Homo sapiens: one gene and its partners. The protein of the gene in region 4 purifies or fractionates together with the protein of the main gene of each other region. This does not show direct contact. Each region holds a gene or a part of one and is shown on either strand. Other genes may lie near its edges.

The links. The genes of interacting proteins can lie anywhere in the genome.
Region 1: the proteins of LMTK3 (region 4) and ANXA5 purify together in Homo sapiens (affinity purification with mass spectrometry; one large-scale study listed by BioGRID and IntAct). This does not show direct contact.
Region 2: the proteins of LMTK3 (region 4) and GPI purify together in Homo sapiens (affinity purification with mass spectrometry; one large-scale study listed by BioGRID and IntAct). This does not show direct contact.
Region 3: the proteins of LMTK3 (region 4) and UBE2V2 purify together in Homo sapiens (affinity purification with mass spectrometry; one large-scale study listed by BioGRID and IntAct). This does not show direct contact.

Annotation. Positions count from the first base shown.
Region 1 is NC_000004.12:121,670,214-121,672,980, forward strand, and holds part of ANXA5 (annexin A5), read right to left. Parts: intron 2,414-2,767; coding exon 2,320-2,413; intron 1,430-2,319; coding exon 1,334-1,429; intron 1-1,333. UniProt on the Homo sapiens protein: This protein is an anticoagulant protein that acts as an indirect inhibitor of the thromboplastin-specific complex, which is involved in the blood coagulation cascade.
Region 2 is NC_000019.10:34,396,196-34,399,554, reverse strand, and holds part of GPI (glucose-6-phosphate isomerase), read right to left. Parts: intron 3,255-3,359; coding exon 3,125-3,254; intron 2,975-3,124; coding exon 2,898-2,974; intron 349-2,897; coding exon 220-348; intron 1-219. UniProt on the Homo sapiens protein: In the cytoplasm, catalyzes the conversion of glucose-6-phosphate to fructose-6-phosphate, the second step in glycolysis, and the reverse reaction during gluconeogenesis.
Region 3 is NC_000008.11:48,011,431-48,014,930, reverse strand, and holds part of UBE2V2 (ubiquitin-conjugating enzyme E2 variant 2), read right to left. Parts: intron 1-3,500. UniProt on the Homo sapiens protein: Has no ubiquitin ligase activity on its own. The UBE2V2/UBE2N heterodimer catalyzes the synthesis of non-canonical poly-ubiquitin chains that are linked through 'Lys-63'. This type of poly-ubiquitination does not lead to protein degradation by the proteasome.
Region 4 is NC_000019.10:48,509,036-48,513,133, forward strand, and holds the start of LMTK3 (serine/threonine-protein kinase LMTK3 precursor), read right to left. Parts: upstream 2,801-4,098; 5' UTR 2,579-2,800; coding exon of another isoform or gene 2,542-2,578; coding exon 2,466-2,541; intron 1,558-2,465; coding exon 1,424-1,557; intron 1,139-1,423; coding exon 988-1,138; intron 479-987; coding exon 402-478; intron 1-401.

The DNA.
Region 1 (2,767 bases), on a different chromosome or scaffold from region 4:
TTCTGAGGTCTGCATAGAAAGGCATGGAGAATAAGGGCACAGGTTTTTCTATGCGCCTTGGTTCTGTGAAGACTTTTTGGATACTGCAGTTTGGGCAGCCTGGATTGTTATCATAATACCACAACATTCTTCATCACCAATAAATTACACAAATCCCTTGGAAGTTTTCATTCCAAGACATTAAAGCAAATAATACAAGATTACTACCTAATTTTTTTAAACTCTTGGGTGATCTTCCTATACTCTCTACATATTCTTTAATATCAATGATTCACACAGAGCAGCATGAGATTTATCCATTTCAGTACAAAAACAGATAAATCAATATCAGAAAGGATCTCTTCTCTGAACATGTACATGTTGAATGTAGGTTGGGGCTGCTCAGACCTCAGTCTGCTTAGCTTCAGAAAATCTATCATGAAAATTCCTTAATATACAAAAATAATCCTTGCATGTGGAGATTTCTTAATTCTCCCTTTTCTAAGTCTTAAGAAAAACAGCCACCAGTAACTGAAAATGTCTTAATTTGTATGCGTATTCTAATTATGAAGGACCTGTCTAAAAGTTTTCTGGTAAAAGTACATTAACTGTGTACTCAAGTGAAAGGCTACTTTTAGAGTTGGTTCATGCAGATCTTTAGCTTAGTCTCCTGAAGACAGAGAGCACAAAAGTGTGAGCTCAAGGCCAAATACTTGGAACAAACAGCAGACAGAGGCTCACTGCAGACCCATATGAACAAAAGGACCACAGGAGACTCACAAACTAGATTCTCCCTAGCTTTGGAGTACATAATACTGCAATCAACTGCACAGATTCAGTTCTCCAATTTTTCCAGATTATTCTGAATATTTAATTAAAATAAAACTAAATTATTTAATTTGAAAACAACCATCATCACATCTTCTATTACATCAAAGATATTCTTCTTTTCTAAACCAGATGACAATTTCTTAGTCTGCCTCAAAGCTGAGAGAACAGTATTCAAAAAAATTCTAAAATTCCACAGGTATCAGAAATAATGTTTACAAGCCTCTGAGATAATGTCCACGACATTTCAGGTTTATCAATAAATAATATTTTTAATGCAGCTTCAAAATGATTTTTAAACAATTATCTTAGTATTTCCATAGGATTTAGATGAACTAACCAGACAATCCTGTATTTCCAACATCAAAATAAATTTCTGAATTGGAAATTTGGGAGTTTGCTTCCCCTAAATATCATATCAAGCTCTTCCTTCACACCTAGGTGGTTATTTTCAGATGCAGCCTCAATTGAATAAAATGCTTTAGCTCTTACCACCAAAAATATCAATACATTGTAAATCACCTACCAACAGCAAGGAGTAGTTGCTCTAAATTGCCAGAAGTCTCGCGGTCAATGGTTTCCTCAATTTGAAATCCTGATATAGTCATGTACTTGTCAAACACTAGAAAAAATAAAAATGATTCCCTAATCATGTAGGGATCACTCTTTCCAGAAAGATGGTATTTACTTTGATTAGGTAGTGTCTTACTGAACACAAATCTCCCCTTCTTCCTTGCTGACAGAACCTTGTGCTCAAAGCCTCAATGTGCCAAGCCCTAAGCAATGGATTGTAAATATACTTTGTTCACTGATTGCCAGCCCCCTTACGAGTTATAGCCAATGAGACCTAAAGGTAAATCTACTGGAGGGGATGCTGAGAAATCTCCTCACTTACAAAAAGTGATACACAGATAGGACTAGTTTACCCTTTTCTTTCCTTCCTGCTGTGAAATGGTTAAGTTTGGAGCTAGAGCAGACATCTTATGATAATGAAGAAAGAAAACCAAAACACTAGGGATAATGGAGCAAAAAGAAAAACCAGAAAGATCTCAGGTCCTGCCAAATCAACCATGGAATCCCACCTCTGGAAAAAAAGCCCAATTTTTAAAGCCACTATTAGGGTTCTCTGTCACTTGCACTAAATTCATTCCCAACTGATACCACAAGTGCTGATGACTATCCAGAGATAAGGTCCTGGGTACCAACCTCTAGGAGGAAATACGTGTAGTGAGCCACTATTCAGTGATGTGTGACTATGAGAGGAACAATCTAGAGAACTGACCTCCCTTGCCATCCTCCAATAGTGAAGGGTGGACTCAGGATCTCTAGTTTGTAAAAGCTACAACAGCAGCAAAAACAATGTTGAGATTTCTCCAGGTCACCAAAAGGAAGAAATACAAAAACTGATTCATTCTCTAAGTCCCTGCTATGTAGCAGGTATTCTGTCACACTGGCTCATGCACTTTCCAAATTTACCAATGTATCTGCCCCATACAGATTTTTTTCACTCACCCTTTCTCAAATGAGACACACTTCGTGTTCCAAAGATGGTGATAAACTTTTCTTCATCTGTCCCCCATTTAAGTTCTCCAGCCTGAAATAAAGCCTGCAAAAATTTCAAACTCAATTAATAAATTGTTCCTCCATCTCATTTCCAGGTTCTTAAACACACTTGTTTTTTACTCCCTGAATTTTAACTCACTTGATTCATCATCTTGTATTAATAGTTTTCATTTCTAATGTGTCCTACTCTGAAACTCAGCTCACTGAGTTTGGAGCACCTTTGGAGCTTGCCACTGAACTGTGCCACAGAAGATTCATGGGTCCAAGCAACAAAGCACGGCAATGGTGCAAGGTTACATGTTCCCAAAATGTCTGCCATAACCTCCAATCTTTCAGAAGCAACAGTATGGGTCAGGAGAAAGTTATGACTACCTCACTGTTGATACATCCATGTATA
Region 2 (3,359 bases), about 14 Mb from region 4:
TGCAGAAAACACCAAGGAATGTCTCCAAGAGAGTCCTGATCCCTAAACCCCTTGAAGGGAAGCACACCCTGCCCCAGAGGCTGAGACGTGCAGGTCTGTGAGGACAGGCCCTCCCATTCTGTAGGACAAGCCAGGCACGCCCCAAGCCCCTGCCTGGTGCCATAGCTTCACACCTCCAACTCCAGCATGCACCCCAAAGCCAAATGCAGAAGTGCTGACCTTATGTGGCAGCAGCCTCTCAAGGTCCTCTGGACTCTTGCCCGCAGCCTGGAGCTCCTTTCGGGCCTCCTCCGTCGATTTTCCCCTCATCAGGGCCTCTGTCTGGGCCAAGAAGTTGGCCAGGAGGATCTGATGAGCGAGACATCAGTTATGCTTGAGAGCACTGTCTGGGCTTCAGGCAGAGGGACAAGACCGCCTGGTACTTCTCAGCAGGGGTCAGTCCCAGCCTGGGTCACTCGCTGTACAGCTCAGTTGGAGCGAGGGGGACACATCCGATGACACCACAAGGCAGGGAACAGTGATAACTGCTCTTTAAGAACTACACACCAGTGGCCAGGCGCGGTGGCTCACGCCTGTAATCCCGACACTTTGGGAGGCCGAGGCGGATGGACCACGAGGTCAGGAGCTCGAGACCAGCCTGACCAACATGGTGAAACCCGTCTCTACTAAAAATACCAAAAAAAAATTTAGCTGGGCATGGTGGCGCATGCCTGTCATCAGGCAGGAGGCTGAGGCAGGAGAATCACCTGAACCTGGGAGGCAGAGGGTGCAGTGAGCCAAGATCACGCCACTGCACTCCAGCCTGGGCGACAGACCTAGACTCCATCTCAAAAAAAAAAAAAGAACTACACACCACTTGCTAGGGGTCCTGCTCACAATTTTACCAACATCTATCTTTTAAGATCCTAAGAAGGTAGCTGGGCGTGGTGGTGTGCAACTGTAATTCCAGCTACTCCGGAGGCTTAAGCACGAGAATCACTTGAACCCAGGAGGCTGAGGTTGCAGTGAGTCAAGGTCACACTACTGCACTCCAGCCGGGGCAACAAAGTGAAACGGTGTCTCGAAAAAAAAATAATACTAAGATCCTAAGGAGGAAAGGCATCATCGCCCTGTTCTAGTAGAGCCTTGGGTTCCACAAGTCCACAGTGCTGGATCACAGAACTATAGACAGGAACAATCAGAATTCAATCCAGCTCACTGACTCCCAAGATTGTGCTACCGTAACCCTGTGCTGCTCTGCACACCTGAGACAAAGCACAGTAAATTCTCTGAAGGAGTTCGAGGGCAGCTTGGGCAACATACTGAGACTCCATCTCTACAAAAAATAAAAATAAAAAAATCAGCTGGGTGTGGTGGCGTGTGCCTGTTCCCAGCTACTCAGGAGGCTGAGGTAGGAGGATTGCTTGAGCCCAGGAGGGTGAGGCTGCAGAGAGCCTGATTGTGCCACTGCACCCCAGCCTGGGCAACAGAGCAAGACTCTGTCTCTTTAAAAAAAAAAAAAAACTTAGCCAGGCATGTTGTACATCTGTGGTCCCAGCTACTCAGGAGGCTGAGATAAAAGGATTGCTTGAGCCCAGGAGTTCAAGGCTGTAGTGAGCTATGATTGGGCCAGTGCACTCCAGCCTCAGCAACAGAGTGACATGCTATCTCTAAAATAAAATAAATAAATAAAATAAACAAAAGGGGAGATTTTCCTGGATTATCTAGTAGCCCCAATCTAATCACACTGGCCCTTAAAAGTAAAAGAGGGCCAGGCACGGTAGCTCATGCCTGTAATCCCAAAACTTTGGGAGGCCGAGGCAGGAGAATCACTTGAGCCCAGGAGTTGGAGACCAGCCTAGGCAACATAGTGAAATCTGGCCTCTACAAAAAGTTTAACAGTTAGCCAGGCTGTTAGTGCCTGTAAGTGCCTGTAAGTGCCTGTTAGTGCCTGTAAGTCTCAGCTATTTGAGGGGCCGAGGCAGGAAGACTGCTTGAGCCTGGGACGTTGAGAATACAGTGAACTGTGATCATGCCACTGTAAGTCCAGCCTAGACAACACAGCATGACACTGTCACTTAGGGAACAAAAGCAAAATGTAGAAGAGGAAGGTAAACAAGTCAGAGAGATGCAACAGAAGTGGCAAGACAGAATCAAAGCTTCAGAGAAGGATTTAACCTGCCATTGCTGGTTCTGCAGTGAAGAGGCCCACAAGCTAGAGGATGCAGGTGACCTCTGAGAATCTGAGAACGACCTTCAGCCCACAGCAAGGAAGCTGGACTTCAGTTCCACAACCATAGAGAAATGAATTCTGCCAACCACCTGACAAGCAGGTCAAAGGCTTTTCCCCTAAGGTCTCCAGAAAGAAACACAGTCCTGATGACACCTTGATTTCAGCCTGCAAGACTCTAAGCAGAGACACATCAGGGCCTGCTGGATATTTGAGCTTCAGAAACTCTTCAGATAGCCCAGGAAGGTGGCTCATGCCTATAATCCCAGCACTTAGGGAGGCCGAGGCAGGTAGATTACTTGAGGTCATGAGTTCAAGACCAGCCTGGCCAACATAGTGAAACCCCCCCTTTACCAAAACTACAAAAATTAGCTGGCCATGGTGGTGAGTGCCAGTAGTCCCAGCTACTTGGGAGGCTGAGGCATAAGAATCACTTGAGGCCGGGAGGGGAAGGTTGCAGTGAGCCAAGATCGTGCCACTGCACTCCAGCCTGGGCGACAGAGCAAGACTCTGTCCCCCCTCCCCACCCCACAAAAGAAGAGTGTTGTTTTAAGCCTCCATGTTTGTTATCATTTGTTACGGCAGGAATAGAAAACTAACGTGATTGCCAACCAATGCACCAGGTTTTCAGAGGTCTGGGTGCAATGTGAGCCAGACCCCCCAGATGGGGCCAGATGGGGGCTCTTACCTTGTGATGCAGACCCTTCCGTATGGGGTGCTGGGTCTGGACCGGGATGAGGAAGTCACAGGGTATCATCTTGGTGCCTGTGAAGGGCACTGTGGTCACCCACATGACCCCAGCCCATGGGAGCTAGCCATATGGCCTAGAGGAGGGCACTGACCTAAGTGAGATATCTCTTCTGGAAGATCCTTTCCCTCCCCCAACATCACCCTTCCCAGGCCACAGGGGCCTACCTTGGTGGATGAGCTGGTAAAAAGCATGCTGGCCATTGGTCCCTGGCTCCCCCCACACAATGGGGCCTGTCTGGTGGTCCACACGGGTTCCAGATTTGGTGATGTATTTCCCATTGGACTCCATGTCGCCCTGGAAAAGGAACAGAAACCCAGTTCTTGGCAAAATGAAAGAACATTTAAAAAGAAAGAAAGAGGCTGAGCGCAGTGGCTCAAGCCTGTAATTCCAGCACTTTGG
Region 3 (3,500 bases), on a different chromosome or scaffold from region 4:
CTACAGGTGCCTGTCACCACGCCCGGCTAGTTTTTTGTATTTTTGGTAGAGACGGGGTTTCACCATGTTAGCCAGGATGGTCTTGATCTCTTGACTTCGTGAACCACCCACCTCGGCCTCCCAAAGTGCTAGGATTACGGGCGTGAGCCACCACGCCCAGCCAACAAGCTTTTTTTAATGAAATAAAACATTTTAATTCTTAATATCTGATACTTTAAATTATGACATACTAAATATTAATTTTACTGGTTTCATTTTCCTGCACATTTTTTTTTTTTTTTTTTTTGAGGCAGAGTCTCTCTCTGTTGCCCAGACTGGAGTGCAGTGGAGCAATCTCAGCTCACTGCAAGCTTCGACTCCCAGGTTCACACCATTCTCCTGCCTCAGCCTCCCGAGTAGCTGGGACTACAGGCGCCCATCACCACACTCGGCTAATTTTTTGTATTTTTAGTAGAGATAGGGTTTCACTGTGTTAGCCAGGATGGTCTCCCATCTCCTGACCTCGTGATCCGCCCCCCTCAGCCTCCCAAAGTGCTGGGATTACAGGCGTGAGCCACCATGCCCGGCCCTTTCCTGCATATTTCTAAACAGGGAGAGTTCTTAATGTGTTGACATTTTTGAAGGTCTCAGAATAACCATAATTTTCCCAATTATTAAGACTGCTTTGGGTAGTTTTTTGCATGGCCATTTTTACCTCTGCCAACTGCCGTTCAAAGGACTGCCTGTACAGTGAGGTTGTACCATATTATCAAAAGCATGTTTATCAAGAGAATTCAGGCTCCCAAATGACCTAGAAAAATCAACCAGGCCAGTTATGGAAGCCTCAAGAGGGAAATACACTAGACTACCATAGTTCAGCTCTTCTATCGTTTAGTTCCCAAGTTCTAGGTTATGATTTAAACTATGTAATTCTCTTCTATCACCACACCCGAGTTCTGTCCATATCCAAGTATCTTCATCTAAAGAGGAAAACAAGATGATGTTGTCCAATCTTTTCACAGATGGGATGGGAAAAGCAATGTTTAGTGATTAACTGACATGCCCATGGTGGCACAGTAGTCTGTCAGGGGCAGCAGGGAACTCAGAACACTGCTAAACTAGTTCTTCCAGTATATACAATGCTACCCACTTCTGAAGAAGGCAATTAGTAGGTTATATTTTGGTTTTGTTTTCTGCCTACATAGCAGAAAACATATTCTTTCATCAATTTTTTCTGAGTTTCTCATAACTCAAAGACATTTTCCAGGCATCTACAGTCAGAGACTAGAGCTTCACTGTACCATTAATATTACCTAAGTGATAAATGTAAAACGTTTCATGTGGGCCGGGCGCGGTGGCTCACGCCTGTAATCCCAGCACTTTGGGAGGCCGAGGCGGATGGATCACGAGGTCAGGAGATCGAGACCATCCCGGCTAACACGGTGAAACCCCACTTCTACTAAAAATACAAAAAAAATTAACCGGGCATGGTGGCAGGCGCCTATAGTCCCAGCTACTTCGGAGGCTGAGGCCACAGAATGGCATGAACCCAGGAGGCAGTGCTTGCAGTGAGCCAAGATCACGCCACTGCACTCCAGCCTGGGCCACAGAGCGAGACTTCATCTCAAAAAAAAAAAAAAAGTTTCACGTTACAATGTAATGTGGTATCCTGGATGAAGTCCTAGGACAGCAAAAGTACATTAAAGAAAAACTAAGGAAATCTGAACTTTAGTTAATAATAAATGTGTCAATATTGGTTCCTTAATTGTGACAAGTGTACCATACCAATATAAGAAATTAACAGCGAAGCCAGATGCAGTGGCTCACACCAGTGATCCCAGCACTTTGGGAGGCCAAGGCGGGCGGATCATGAGGCCAGGAGTTTGAAACCAGCCTGGCCAACATGGTGAAACCCTGTCTCTACTAAAAATACAAAAAATTATCCGGGTGTGACAGCACACACCTGTAATCCCAGCTACTCGGGAGGCTGAGGCAGGAGAATCACTTGAACCCAGGAGGCAGAGGTTGCAGTGAGCCCAGATCACGCCACTGCTCTCTAGCCTGGGCGACAGAGCAAGACTCCATCCCGAAAGAAAAAAAAAGGAAATTGACAGGGAAAACTGAATGTGAGGTGCATGGAAACTTTCTGTACTATCTTCACAACTTTTCTGTAAAACTAAAACTATTGTATTTTTTTAAAACTATTGCACACGCTTTTTTTCTTTTTTTTTCTGAGATGGAGTCTCACTCTTCTTACCCAGGCTGGAATGCAATGGCGTGCTCTCGGCTCACCACAACCTCTGCCTCCCGGGTTCAAGAGATTCTCCTGCCTCAGCCTTCCGAGTAGCTGGAATTACAGGCATGTGCCACCACGCCCGGATAATTTTGTATTTTTAGTAGAGACATGGTTTCTCCATGTTGGTCCAGCTGGTCTCAACCTCCCGACCTCAGGTAATCCGCCCACCTCGGCCTCCCAAAGTGCTGGGATTACAGGTGTGAGCCACCCCACCCGGCCTGCACATACTTTTCTATCTAAACTAATTGTTATTATTAATGCTGGAATCTAATAAAATTTTGAATCATGAGTACTAAACAGTATCAAATTTCTATTCCCGAGAGTAGCTTCTTAACCTCTGTCCTGTGAAATACTCTTGAATTGCATGGGTAACTCTGTCTCTTGGAAAAGGAGAACCTAGCTGGTGAGGGCTACGTTCCCCTTTCATCCATAAGAAGGATCTAAGAGTCTGAAACAAGGATTGTGCTAAGAAGGGAAGTGTGAAAGGGAGTAATTAAGATTCATGTTCTGAGAAATATTCCAAATTCAGAGTTCTTCATAATGGAGAGCGCATCAGACTAAGGGTAAAAGACCTGGATTCTAGTCTTGCCTGTACTAGTAACCACCTATGTATAGCCTTTTACTTGTTTGAGCCTCAGTTTTCTCATCTGCAAAATAAGAAGACCAGATGGGATGGCCAAAAATGTTTCTGCTTAGAAGTCTCCGTCTGGCCAGGCACAGTGGCTCAAACCTGTAATCCTAACCTCAGGCCAGGGCAGGAGGGTCACTTGAGTCCAGGAGTTCAGACTACACTGGATAACATACGGAGACCCTGTCTCTACAAATAATTTAAAAATTAGCCAGGTGTGGCAATGCGTGCCTGTGTTCGCAGCTACTCGGGAGGCTGAGGTAGGAGGATCACCTGACCCCAGCAGGTCGAGGCTGCAGTGAGCCATGATCGCATGCCACTGCATTCCAACCTGGGCAACACAGCAAGACTCCGTCTCAAAAAGTCTCAGTCTAATTAAAAGTTTTTTCCTTCCAAAATTCTCTTCCAGTAGAAGGAAGGGTTAAAGGGGCTAAGGTATATGATGCACACTGAACTAAAGATCAAAACATATTTGTCAGGGTTTTTCTTTTTGGCCTCTTAAACAACTGTTATCGAGATACTTTGGCTTAAATAAAAAACACGTGTATTAGACCAAGCTCAGTGGTTTATGCCTGTAATCCCAGAACTTTGGGAGGC
Region 4 (4,098 bases):
CACTCCACCACACAGCTCCCAACCCCCGGCTCCTTCCCAGCTTCTCCCTCCACATCCCACCACCCTTGACCCCCACCAGACATGGGGTGAGACACTCACGGGCCCAGAATCCGATGGACGCAGGGACGGATGGAAGGATGGACAGACGGACGGACGCGTGGAGAGCCGGGTGGCGCGGCGGAGTGGTCAATGGAGTGAGGAGGGAGGCGCTGACTGACAGATGTCGGGGATGGGGCGGGTGGGAGCCGGTGAGAGGTGGACGGAGGGGGGATGGGAGGCTGAGGGGGCATGGGGAGGAGGCGAGGGACAGATGAGAAGTGGTGAGAGCAGGGGTGTGGACACAGAACAGGAGGACAGCTCGGGATCCATGGAGCCCTGCCTCCCCTCCCCAGCCCACTCACCTTCCCAAACCAGCCACTCCCAATCTCCTGCAGGTAGCTCAGGTGCTGCCGGCTAAGGCCCAGGGGGGTGGTCATGTCTGGGGAGGGCAAGAGGGGAAAGCCCCTGAGTCTCTCCCCCTTCCTGAGTGCTACCAACACACCCCAGGTCAGTGGGGACTGAGACAGAGCAGACATCACTCTCTTTTCATTGGCTGCCACCCACATTCCATGTCAGAATCTCAGCTTCCTCATTGGCTGCTCACAAGGCTCCAGCATCCAATCAGTCCTTCCTTTTGGCATCCCAAGCTCCTATGATGTGATTTCAGCCTCCCATTGGCTGCCTCTGAGACTGTGCTCTATGGTAATCTCACCACCGCTTGCCCCTTAAAAATCCCCAAATCTGGTTTTGGATTAAGCAATGGCTTCCACCAAGATGATCTTTGTCTGCCTCCCCATAGGCTGCTTCCAAGATTCCAGCGCTCCCACCTATGCCTTTCCCATTGGCTGCCGCTGGTCTCAACCGCCCCAGCCCCTGAAGGAACACACTCAACATCTTCTGGCCTTTCCCGGGACACCATGGGATGCTGGTCATGGCGTGGGGCAGTACCTGAGTGTGAAGGCTGCGGGGCAGGCATTGGCAGGGAGACCTCAGCCAGCGGGAGAATGTAGACATCAGGCAGCGACTGTGAGGAGGAGGTCTCCTCCGCAGGGGGAGTGTACTCCCCGGAGCAGTCCTCCCCTTCAGGGTTCTCAAATTCCTGGGGCCAGGAGAGGAGAAGAGGGGTGGGAGAACGCAGGGCTGAGAGACACGCCATCGTCTTTCTCTTAAGTTTGTCTCCCCTTCATTTTTGTAACTGTCTCCCAGTCCCAGCCCAATTTCCATCCCCCATTTCCCCATCCCAAGGCTCCAGATCTTGCCATAGCTTCAAGCTGGAAGGTGCTCTCGGATTTACTGCCCCCTTCTCCCCACCAACCACCTGTGTAGGGGGTAAAGGCCTTGCTGGAGTCTTCCTCCCCAAGTTGAATCCCCTCATGCACCTCACCTTGAAGCCGACATCGCCCCGTTTGCAGCACAGACAGGTGAGGAGGAGGAAGATGAAGGCCAGCAGGCCGGAGCAGGAAATGAGGACCACAGCGTAGGGAGGAGCCAGAGGAGCCCGGCCCAGGGCGAATCCATCTGTGGGCACAGGGCTGGGCTGGGGTCCCAGCTTCAAGTCCCTGGATACCGGAATCATGCCCCCTCCCGTCCCGGCACGTCTTGGACTACAACTCCCGTGATGCTCTGCGACCAGGGTCCCTTGGCAGAGGTGCAGAGTGGCCCAAGGCATTGTGGGAGTTGTAGTTTGGGGCCTTCCCAAGTGGTTGGATTGGGGGTGGGGTCTCTCTTCTCGTCCCAAACTGGGACCCCCGCCACCTCATCCCACCCCATCCCCTCACCCCAGGCTTGGATGAATTCCAATGAGGGTTGAAGGAAAGAGGAGTGATAGTGAAGTCTGGAGCTTGCAGAATTTAAAATACGCTCCCGTGGACAGCCTCATTACCCCTCGTTGGGGAGGAGGACTAGCTCTCAGCTGCAGGCTGGGAGAAGATTCTTGCCCCATGCTGGAACCCCCCAGTTTGTGGGGTTGAGATCTGTCTCTTTTAGGGACGCTTGGCGCACACCGATGTTCTCTATCCCCAGCCCAAGACCCAGAGAAGGGAACTCCGCAAGCCCTGGGTCTCTCCAGAAGCCAGAGACAGCCTCCCGTGTTGTGTCCCCCTTAGAAATAGTATTCCTGTCCTCTGCCCCCAATTCTCCCAGAGGCCCTGTCCTTCCCCTTCTTCCTGCACACACCAGCACAAACACATGCGTGCACGCATACACACATGTTGCCCAAACGGAGCCCCCTCCCCACCCAGCCCCCAGCCTCCCTCCCACAGGCCCTGCTGACAGAGGCACCGTCCCCGCCGCTCCGGGCCCTGCTGGGCTGCGGGAAGACGCGCACCAGGTGACGGGGCAGGACCCGCAGACAGACCCCTGGGCAGACAGCGAGGCCGCCGCGGGGGTGGGGGCCACCGGACAGACTGATGGCCCGACAGACTCACCGGGGTGGGCCGGGGACGCCAGGCAGCCGGAGGCGGAGACGGCCGCAAGGAGGATGAGGGCGCCGGGGGCAGGCATCTTGTCGAGGATGGCAGGGAGGTGGAGGTGGTGGCGGCTGGGGAGGAGGGGGGGGCGGGCCCTCAGCCCCCAGCCATGGGGACCCGCGCGACCCTGGCCTCCTCCCGGCCCAGGAGAGGGGCAGGAGACGCAGGACAGGGGGAGGGAGGGGCTGCTTGCTGGCTCAGGTACCCCCCTCCCCCTCTTTGAAGGGACAGACGGATGAAGGGATGGAGAGGCGGACAGAGGAGAGATGCTGGGGAGCCGGGGTTGCTGGGGTGGGGGGGAGAGGGTAGGATGGGGGGGGCGAGAAAGAGGGCCCCGCCCCCGAGGGCAGCCAGGATTGGGGGAGCAGAGAGCCTGTCACAGGAAGGGTGGGAGGAGGGAGGATGGAGCGTCGTCATGGCAACTGGCTCCCCCGTAGCATTGGCTGCCAGGAGGGAGGGGAGGAAATGGGAGGGGGAGGGACAGACAGGGACCGGCACACACTTGCAGCGGGGGTGGGGGGGCAGGGCCCACGGGTGCCTGGCCCGGACACCGCTGTGACATGCCACCAGCATGGACACATGTGCTACACGCTAAGATGCAGATGTCAGGCACGCGCAGCCCACACACAGCTGACACACGTCGCAGGGACCCTCATAGACAAGCGCATCACATACAAAGGTGGACAGCCATCAGCAGACGGGGACACGTACACGTCACACACAAAGACGCAGGGACCGCACTGGAAACGCACAGGCAGGCCAGCTTCCAGCACAGATGCACCCGGCCACGCAGGAACGTCAAAGCATCACAAAGACCCACACATGCCCCGGACAAAGTAAAGCCCCAGATCCACAGACGCACACGCCACAGACAAAGATCCCCACGGACACCACTGTGACATGCTGACACTCATAGTCACAGCCACGCAGACAGTCCCTAGACAAATGGGCAACAAAGAATACCCACAGACACAAGTATCACATACATGCACGTCACACAGACATGCACAGACAGCAATTGCACAGACACACGCAGACACACACATCACATGAACTAACATAGACACGGACACAGCAGCTACACAGAGACAGGCACATCACATACATGAGTACACAGAAACATAATACATGCATGTATACGGACACGTAACATGCATCACTCACACGGACACAAGCTTCACTCACATGGATACACACAGACACACTACATACACATGCATGCGGGCACACACAACTCATACATACAGGGCTACATAAATCACATGCAAAAATACACATAAATACACCACACACTGATACATACAGACACATATAACATGCACATATACACAGTCACACATACATAAGCACAGACATAGGCACACAGATCAAATACACAGACACACAGAGTTGCACACATCACATACCTAAACAGACATGGACACACACATCACAAATACACACACCTTTCACACAAGGTTACAAAGACACAGAACCCCACCACAGTCACACATCACATACATAAACACACACTGGCACACATAACACATACAAAGAGTCACACACCCACAACACAGACACAGACACGCGCACAGACACACGGGTCGCAAAT